Regions from separate parts of the Homo sapiens genome. Here region 2 is linked to region 1. The links come from fine-mapping of genetic effects on gene expression. A gene starts in region 1. The other region holds a variant in brackets. All regions are shown on one strand. Distances are between the middles of the regions.

Region 1 (5,540 bases):
GCAGGAAACATTTTGTGGTCTCCCAAACAGAAAGTGAACAAAAAGTCCAGAGAAACATAAAATACAACATAATTTGCTGAGAAGAAGTTAGTGGCACTAATTTAATTACTCATCAAATGAATTTTTCTTTTTCTTTTTTTTTTTAAGATTGTAAGTCCCAGTGAGTTTGAGATACAAATAAAGAGATACAAAAACGCCGGTTATAGTAGAAAAAGGCACTTGCCAAATGTACCCAAGGGGAAAAACAAAATACAGTAAATATTTTTGCTGTGTACTGATTACGCACAGATTTGCATTTTGGGTAAGAAAGCAGTATTTAAGAACAATGGTCCAATCCCTTGTTCCTGCCTCACAAATAGAAAATCTTACCTACTTCTGACTGCCACTCCAACTCACCTGCCTAAAAATGGCTTTGATCTTTGTGATCATGCCCTCAATGACTGAAAGTGCAGGATATTAAGATGCCCTCTTTTCTTGAGCCTCAGATTCTTTTAGGAATCACATGAAAATATTAAACCGCATCCCTAGAAAATGCATATACAGACACAATATTTTGCACACAATTTCAGGAGGTTTGGAGATCTCCTAGAGTCCATCTACGACCCAGGTAAGGAAGTTCCAAGCTTGGGAAGGGCCACGCATGGTGGCTCATGCCTATAATACTAGCATTTGGGAGGTTAAGGTGGGAGGATTACTTGAGCACAAGAGTTTGAGAACAGTCTGGACAACAAAGTGAGATCCCATCTCTAAAACAGAGAAAAAAAAAAAGCTTGGGAAGAGATCCTAATAGTCCCCAGAAATGAGAGTTGCAAATGCTCTGTTGGCGTCTCTTTGCTGCACATACGAAGCTAAGTTTCACCTAAACTCTCTTTGGGTTTGTCCTGGTGTTGCCTGAGGTTCTTACAGAGAAACATTTTGAGGCTTTAATAGTCCTGAGTTATTCAGATGATGGGATTCATCCTAAAAAATGAAATTTGATTGGAGTAGCTCAACCTGACTTCATTTCCCTGGGTAATGGAGTAGCTATTTAGTGGGAATGCATGTACCACTCAAAGGCCCAGGCATAGTGGGACTGAAAAATGTAGTTCCTGTGGATGTCATGAAAGTTACTGTGGTTGCCTGACATTTAACAGAAAACTACTGGTGAGTTTTTGGAGTTATCCTAGGGCACTGAAAGTGCATTCCTCCTAGAGATACCTCAGAAATATCACTTTGCAGTTCATGGACCTGCTATCCACATAACTAAATGGATATTAGTGAAGCTTTATATAAATAACCTTCCTCTAGAAAAATCAACCACCACAAATACCTGTAAGACAGTAAAAGAGAAATGTTTATGGCTCCACCTCTTAGTTCACCTATATACTCTCACTTATGGCTGAGGTGGCCACGTAGAAGAGGCCAGCAATTGTAAATCATGGGCAGCTCCCTCCAGTGGTCTCTGAAACTACATGATCAGGGCATCTGTCCTAACCGAGCCAACAGCCTGCCTCGACTGTGAGAAAATCATTGCAAATGATTTTATTGCAAATGGGGTTATTTAAAATTTTTAAAACATACTTGTTAACATCAAATATGTGCAAGGAAGTACAATTTGAGTCATGGGGGCTAAAAAGACTTAGAAAACATAAAGACTGTTCCTAAGGAACTAACAATTTTAACACCTTGATGGTGCGTCCATCATTCTGGAACTTAAGGCTAAAAATACATTAATTTTTTATTCCTCCTTCTACCCAATTTCCACCCCAAATTAATTATACTCACCAAGTTGCATCTACCTTGTATATAATCCTCTATCTTCACTCTCAAAGTCAGGATTCTAATTCAGTTCCTTATTAACTCATAGATGGGCCACAGCAATGTCTTAAACCTCTTTGAGTACTTATTATTAGTTCCACATATTTGACATGGAAAAATGCATTTATTGTGGAGGTACTTTAGTGAATCTATCCCCTCCAGCATTCAACTCTGTAAGAGCAGATTCCTTCCCTGATCTCACCTATTCCTGATTCTTATGCAACAGCAGGAACTCAACAAACACTTGTTAACTAAATCAAAACCATTCTGCAAAACACATCCAGTAAGCATCTCACTACTGAAGTATCTGACAAACTACCTTTATGGGCCGTCTGCAGCCTAGCACAAGTGGCAGGCTGGCAATTTTTTTTTCTCCAAAATAATAACAAAAAGCTTCTACCTCTTCCATTATTGTAAGCTGACTCACCTCCCAATGGAACACTATACAGACTCCCCTGTCCTATATTGTGGACCAATTCAGTATTAGAAAAAAACCACTTCCAATTTTCTTTAGAGTGTTTTTAAGAACTTGGTCACATAGGACCTACAGGTCCAACATTCATTTTTCATAATCCAAGGTAGTAGTACCCTTTTTCATATAGGATCAATGGCCTCTCCCACACCACCCGCCATATGGTAACAAACTGTCTTGCCTTCGTTTTCATGGTGCACTGGGTTAGTCCTTACATGCTGCGATCTACAGTATTGATTTTACCATCCAACTTTGTGGGCCTGGCGACTGAAAATGTTAATATACTTCCTTATTTGTCCTACATTCCCAATAAATAATTTAGACGTAAGAAACAGGCTCTTTTGCTTATTATGTAACCACAACCTCAATATTTTAAATACACTGCATGGCATCACTAATTCTACGTCTGTACTACGCTTCCCCTTCCGTGATAACCAAACCCCCACAAACCACTCCAAATACTAAAAATAAAATAAAATAAAGTATGGGGTTCCTAGGGAACTGACTTTGCCAGGACATACTTTTCGTTGGGGCGGAATGCACCGAAAATCATTGGTAGGAAAAATAATTTTTTTTTTGAGGAAAAATTTGGAAACCTTTTTCCCAAAGGGCCCGCAAGATCCTAAAAAAAGCAAGAGACCGCGCAGAAACCGAGGATCCCCCTCACAGGCGACACCCAGCGCGACCTCCGCTAGGGTCCTGACAAAGAATGTCCACTTCCCGCGGCCGCACCTCTGGGGCCAGACCACTGGTCTCCAGAGAGGCGCGGGGACCTCCACCAGGGATCGGAGTGGTACTCAGACCTGCACACCCGCGAGTCCTCGAACAGCTCCACACGTCTCCAGCTCCGCCCGAGCCCGAGCCACGCGCCGGGCCGTGATCGCGCACGGACCAGACGGAGCGCTTTCCGGGAGACACCAGAGGGAGGAGCCAGGCAGTTACTAGCGTCGTTGCTAAGGCAGGGGCCGCGCACACCGCACACCGCGCGGCTTAAGCAACAGGCTGGGACGACAGCGGGGGGGGGGTTAGACGGGAAGTTCCGCCTCAGCCTCTCAATCAGCGGCGGTGTCGCACTTCTCCCGAGAGGCTCCGGCGAGGGGCAGGGCCGCGTTCGTCCGGGACCCGCCTCAAGCCTCGCAGCCTTTCACCCAGTTTCCTCCCGATTCTTGCTGGGACAACAAAATTGGGAAGCGGTTCTCGAAACATACTGTCAAGGCGTAGTTGCAGTGAGTTGTGAAGAAATGTTGATCCCAGAGAAAAGTTTGCATTTTGCCCACCTCAAAGATATTTTGATTGTGAGAACTTGGTTACATTAGTCTTTCGTGGCTATATCAATATCATTATTTCGTGTGCTGTGTGGTAATGAAAGCTATTAGAAAAATCATTTGTATCTTAATGATTTAGTTTGCATAAAAACACGCATATAGAGTTAAGAGTACTTTGTGTTTTTCCACTTTGAAGTATAATATGTGGATAAGTTATTAGAACATTTGTCCGTGCCTCTCCCCAAACAATGCGCAAACGGAAGTGCACTCTAACAACTAAGATTTTAAAACACAATGGTCAAATGTTGAGCAATGTTTTATTGACTACTCTGAATTTATCAAGTGGTAGATAAAGGACATTACAATGCCCTAGAAGTGCTCACGATATCAAGTAAAGCATGTTAAATTCAAGTACAGAAAATGCAATATTCTTACTACTGAGATAAAAAATGGAATTTAATAAATTACAGGAATTTCAAGAAAGCTGAGAATGGAGTGGTCAATAAAGGCTTCTTTTTCGGACTTGGGTAAGGCCTTGAAGAATGATTTAGGTTTAGGACAGTGTTTTTCAACTGGAAAGGGGATTGTGTGGGACCCATTAGTGGAGGTCTTGACCCATTTGTAAGCAAGGAAATCTCTTTAAACTTAAAAAAAAGAAACAATATAGATTGGAAATATCAGCGCATGTAAGTAAATTTAGTGTTAGTTAGTAAAGTACTGCTTTATGGAGCTTTTAATTGTATATATGCGTGTATGTGTGCACTAGGGCTTGTTTGTAAAATGTATTTCTTACTGTATTTCAAACCTTAAAAAGTTTGAAAGCCAGTGATTTAGGGAGAAAGGTGAATTTTCTGGGTAGGGAAAGTAGAATAGCAAAGTCTATAAGCCAAGAAGAATTCACAACCATTTTCCTTTTTAGTTTAACTCTAAATTTTATCAAAGTAGTTAAATTGCACAGATTAAAAAGCAAATAATACTACTTGTTAGATTGAGCATTGGGTTGCTATCGTATGTAATAAATTACTCCAAAATATGGTGGCTTAAAACAACCATTTTATTATGTTCACAGGTGGTGTTGTCAATAGGGCATAGTCATCAGCTTTTCTTTGGTAACTCAATTAGAAAGACTAGAGTGGGCATGCTAGCAGAGCTTCTGTAACTATATGGCCGGGGTTTCCTCACAGTATGGCAGCAAGGTAGTCAGACTTCTTAGCTTAAACTCAGAGCTCCAAAGGGAGTGTTGCAATGAACAAGGCAAAAATTGCCTGACCTTTTCTGACCTTGCCTCAAAAAGTAACGCGGTGCTACTTCCCCCACTTTCTTTTGCTTACAAATGTGTCAAAGTCCTGTTCCATTTTAGGAAAGGAGACATAGATCCCTCTTCTCAAAGGATTGGCAAAGATTTCTTGTCCATGTTTTAAAACCAGCATAGTGAATTTACTTCTGTAACAGAAAACCCCAAAATATCGGTGGTTTAATACACTTTTTTTTTTCCTCACAAAAGATCCATTGTGGCTATTTCTAGGCAGACGAAATGTTAAATTCAAGGCCAGATGTTTTTATTTTTAATGGTTCTGCTGCCTTCTAGGACTAGCTTGTTTGACAAGAAAGAAAGTATGGCAAATTACCCAAGGTTAACTCTAAAAATGACATGTATCAATTTGGCCACATTCTGTTGGCCAGAATTTAGTCCCAAGGCCCCCACTTTAACTGCCGGGGATCCTGAGAAATGTAGAGAAACACACACATATTGGTGAGCACTAACAGTTTGCCACATTCTAGGTTAAAGAAAACCCTGTAGTACCCAACCCTTCTACTCTATTCTCAATTCTTCTCACCAAAGGAAAATTCAAGTCTTTTAAATATTTCATCTGTTACCCCCATGTCTAAATATACTTACATTGCAGTTTCTTGATTTTCCAATTTCAGACATTACCCACTGACTTTCTCCTGTGGAAGGCAGTGATAAAGGTCTTTTGTAACAACACCACCTCCAAGTGTGTGAA
Region 2 (5,000 bases), 110 kb after region 1:
TATCTATATAACAAACCTGCACATCCACACATGTTCCCTGGAACTTAAAAGTTAATGAAAAAATAAAATAAGAAATATGTGCCTACTAACTCAATCTTCAAAGAAGATATCATAATGGAAATTAGAGAAATGGAAACTAGTTTTGAACAAGTTGACAAGAATAAATACTATGTCTCAAAATATATAAGATGATAGCTAAGGTTCTTGGAAGGTAATTTATGGCCTTTAATGTGTATTTTCAAAAAAGAATAAAGACTGAAGACCACAGTGATCTGTTTAAGCATCCATCTCAAATGGGAAGAAACTAACCCTTCAGAAGCCTTTTTGTTTTTGACATCTCAATTCTCTATATTATATTCAAAAAGAGAAAACAGAGAGAAAGCAAAGAAATAATCAAAGAATTACTTCAAAAAGTTTTCCATGCTTGAAAAACTTGAGTTTCTAGTTTGAAAGAGGTTATCTAGTGCTTAGGACAATGGATAAAAATTGCTGTATGCCACAGTAAATTGTGAGTCCTCAGAACCCAGAGAACAAAAAGAAAATGCTAAAAAAAAAAAACTTCCAGAGAACAGAAAGATTAAGAAACAGAATTGTATCATCCCTCTTAACAGCAGCTTTGAAAGATGGAAGAGAATGGAACAATGTCTTACAAATTCTAAGGGAAAATTATTTATAACCTAGGACCCTAGACCCAACCAATTTGTCAAGTAAGTGTAAAGATGAACTGAAGGCATTGTTAACTTATATACATCTTTTCTCATCAAGTTATTGGAGAAAAAAAACCACCAAAATAAGGCGTAAATTAATGAAGAGGTTAAGATGAGAGTCAAGAAATGGAGGCTTTAACACATGAGACATGTAAATTGAATCTCCAAAATACTGGTGAAGGGAGCTCCCTAAATGATAACTGCACAGGCCTAATGAAAAAATTTGTTCAGATTCGAGCACATTGGCAGGCTTTGGGAGAGATGTCTCCAAGAATATTAAACTGAAAGCATCTCTAATGCATCTGAATGTATTCAAAGGCAATTTAGACAATAGTGGGGGGAGCAGTTTGGAGCTAAGTTAATTATAAGTACATAGAACATAAGAAAACAAAAACATCCAACAATTATTAACTTCAGATAAAAAAATTTTCTTAAGAAAATAAGTATAGCAGATTCATTTTTAAAGTCTCAATTGTCCACATTATTCTCTATATTCAAAAAGAGAAAACTGGTTCAGCTGTCAACAAGATTTTACATAGTTACAATAATGTAAATGCTGATATTCACACAATGAAAATTATAACAGTTGATATTATGTAAAGAATAGAAAGTTAGCTTGTATGTGGTGATAATGGGATAGGATGGTGAAAGATCGTTAAATCTTTATCTTCCCTAGTTGGACGTCAATAGAATGCCTAAAATTAATACATCAAAATGTAACAATATAGCCCTTTTTTGTGTGTGCTATGGTTATGGGTCCCAGATAAAGATAGTTGTTTCTGGGAAGCAAGATATGGTCTTGGGGATGTGTGAGGAACTATGGGACTTTGGAAATTAAACAAATAGTTTCACATATAATTTCACTCTTTAAATTGTATGTCTGTATAAATTTTATAAAATGAAAAATGAAAATTAGAATATATGTAAGTTACCAAATAATTGCAAAGACATTTTAGGTTTTTAGCTCCTTTATTTTATGGGCCATTTGTTTCTAAATCCTGTAGGATAACAATTTCCTAGGAAATACTTGAATAGATCCTACTAGAGTTTAGTTTTTTAAAACTGGCAATGTGAAAAGATAAATTTCGAGTGTTGTGGCTCTATATTAATGTCATTCTTTGGAACAATTCATGTTTTGTGACCAATTTGAATTAAAACTTGTAAATAATGTTGGAATGTAGTCAGATATCAACCAGTGGCTAATTTGCAAAAAAAAAAAAAAAAAGTAACAGTGAAAGTAACTTATATTAAGTGCTTACTAGGGATCAGGCACCATGTTAAATAATTTCACGTCTGCCTTGATGGCAGACAGGGACTAGATTGAAATGACTTTTGCGCCCCTTGTGTCAAGCACATAGTTTGGTACATAGTAATCCCTCTCTCTCTTTATATATCAGGACCAAGTAGGGTTTATGCAATACTGGACAGTATTAACCATGTATTTTATTTTCTATATTCTGATACTTTGACATCTGGGACCTTGATGACCCTAGAAGGACTGCACTTCCTAGGGTTAGTTAATTCCTAGAGGCAACTTGCCCATGAGCATGTTTTTTAAATGCTTTTTGATTTTTAAACAAACCAACCAATTCAGAGGTCACACACAACCATTTCCTTTATTTGGCTGTTACACTCTGGGTCACTATCCACCTGCCCAAATCATCCCAGGACTAGGTACCAGATAGGGGTAGCTCCTATGCACTAAAGCCTACTGAAATTATTTAAACTAGTCAATCATAGGCCTTCTTGCCTTGCCTCTTCCTTCCTAAGGAAAGCACAATAAAGACTCTCCCCCACAGTTCTCCCCTCTTTCTCTGCCTCCTGACTGGCCCCAGGGCTTGCCCATGTGGCCCCCTGTGGCATGACATCCCCCTACTCTTGGGAACTGTGAGTAATAAACCATCTTTATAAACGCAATCTGCTGATCTGTTGGCCTTACTATACTTCAATTTTTCTATTAATGCACAATATTTTAAAACATAGGCAATCTATCTAGAAGCACTCAAGTGAATCAAACTGAAGTCTGCTAAATAAGTGATAACTGTATCTAAAAACATTTAGAAAATTACAATTTGATGGCTCAGTCTAGTGAATAACCCTCATTGAACACTCACCGCTGAGAAAATATTGGCTACATTTATGAGCATGTTATAGTCATAATTATTGTTAACATATAATATTAATAATAATATTAGTTCATATTTGTGTCATACTTTCCC[A/G]TTTACCAACACTGTAACATATATTTCAAAATAATTTATGTTATTCTCATTTTTATTGCTGAGGATACAGATGTTTAGAGTGGTTAGATGACTTATCTAATCCTACGCAGCTTAAAAGGAACAAAAAAGGAACTTTTTTGTTGTGAGGATGAAATGTATAATTATCATAAAAATGCTTTGACAAATTAAAAGGTATTTTCAAAATCCAAATTTATTTGGCTAAATATGTATTTTATATTAACAGGTTTAAAACCTCAAAAAGGCTTTTGGATCCACTGGAAACTGAAAGAACTCTCCACAACCACCATTCATGGTAGCAAAAAAGCACCTGCAAAATCAGTAAAGGAAAGAATTGCAGACAGTCAAGAACATATATCAACTAGTAAGTAAAGTTTCTGTATACTGCCAAATGGAATAGGTAGCAAAAATCAATTAATTTATTTATTAGGCAGAATTTTCTAATGATTTATGTTTTTGGTGAGGGCCTTAAAATAACATTTGATTTATAGATTGATGTTATAGTGGTACACACTTAAGTCCTTTTTCCATTTGCCTGTTACAAAATAATGATTTTTTAAAATGTTTATCCTTTTTGTCTTTATGTATACTACATATATTCTCACTTTTACTTGTATTGCTAACTGGTTAATATGTATTGTCTCTATAGATAAATTTACATTTTTTATTTTGTTCATTTAAATTATGTTTTCTTTAGGGTTTCAGTTTTGTGGTGTGTTTGTGAAGACTTAACTAAGATTATAAAAATACCTACCTGTATTTTTCTAGTATTTTTAAATTTCCATATAAATTTAACTCTTTGTTATAAACAGCATAGTTGTATTCCAATATGATGGGTTTTTTTTTTCCAAATGATCCGTTTATTAAATAGTCCACTTAGAGCCTACTTGAAATACCAATTCATTTACATTTTAATATTCTTTTCTGTTCCTTTGAGCCACGTCCAAATTCTTGTGCCAGGACCAAAGTCCTCAGTTACTCTACATTAATAAGCTTTGTAAGGCGAGTTTATTTCTCTCCTGTTTATGCTATTTCTTTAATACCAAACATAAGTCTAATGCTCAGGTCTCGTGTCTGACTGGTTAAATCAGAATCTAGGCTTAGTAATGTTTAAAGTTCCTCAGTGCCTCAGATGATTTCATGTGCAGGCAATGTTACAAACCACTAATGCAGAGGGAAATACCTTTCTAACCTATACCTTGATATAGGCCAAGGAAGAGGAGGAATTAACCTACCCAGCCTACTCTTTGGGAAGTTATTCTTTAGTTAATCTGATTCTAGAATTATTTAATTAGTTAATTATTCTTCTTCAGATCTGAGAATTTTGAATTTAGAGCATCACTATTTTAACTGTGGTTTTCTATATTCTTATCGCAGTATATATCATCCAATATGATTTCTATCTTTTATTAGTTACAGGAAATTTTCTTGTTTGCTGTCATCCTCAGTGTTTTACCAAAACTTCGTATATATTGTTATGGGGGGTGGGGGGCTATTTCTAGGGATTTCTGATAGAAAGAGTAATAGTCTACTATCTTGAGCCAATTTTGTTTATCTGTTTTGACTTCTCACCCTCACATATGAATAACTAAATTGAGAGTATTTTGTGAACTTTCCATTTTCTTTTTAAGTAACAGAAAAGTGGTAAGAATAGCATTAACAACTCCCATATATCCTTTACCTACCAATTATTTATATTTTGCTTGTTCTTTAAATCATTCTCTTTCTTCTTTTTTCACATAAGCAATTAAAGATTAAATTTCCCTAAGCACTGCTTTAAGTGTGTTGTATTTAGATATGTTGTATTTTATCACTTAATTAAAAATTTTCTAACATTTACTGTAATTCCTACTTTGACCCATTAGTAGGTCAAAGTAGGGTTATTTAGAAAAGTATTGTTTAATTTCCAAATGTTTGGGACCTTTCTAGATATCTTAAAATTACTGATGTCTAATTAAAAAAAAACTACTGTGGTCTGAGGGCATACTCTGTATGATCTTTTGCAACGTGTTGAGACTTGTTTTATGGTTCAGAATGTGGTCTGTCTTGGTGAACA

The links. PIP is the estimated chance that this variant, and not a neighbour inherited with it, causes the effect.
Region 2: its variant is the best candidate, but not a certain one, in a credible set for the expression of DTWD1 in whole blood (INTERVAL, PIP 0.57).

Annotation. Positions count from the first base shown.
Region 1 is chr15:49,618,655-49,624,194 of GRCh38, reverse strand. DTWD1 (DTW motif tRNA-uridine aminocarboxypropyltransferase 1) reads right to left here and starts at 3,147. Exons shown (of 5, transcript NM_001144955.2): 1 at 3,073-3,147. FAM227B (family with sequence similarity 227 member B) reads left to right here and starts at 3,377. Exons shown (of 16, transcript NM_152647.3): 1 at 3,377-3,495. RefSeq lists an enhancer at 2,916-3,035.
Region 2 is chr15:49,506,519-49,511,518 of GRCh38, reverse strand. FAM227B (family with sequence similarity 227 member B) reads left to right here. Exons shown (of 16, transcript NM_152647.3): 11 at 3,171-3,308. Among named protein-coding and RNA genes, the nearest start is that of FGF7, 86 kb to the right of the region's middle. The variant A/G (reference allele first, on the strand shown) is at 2,927.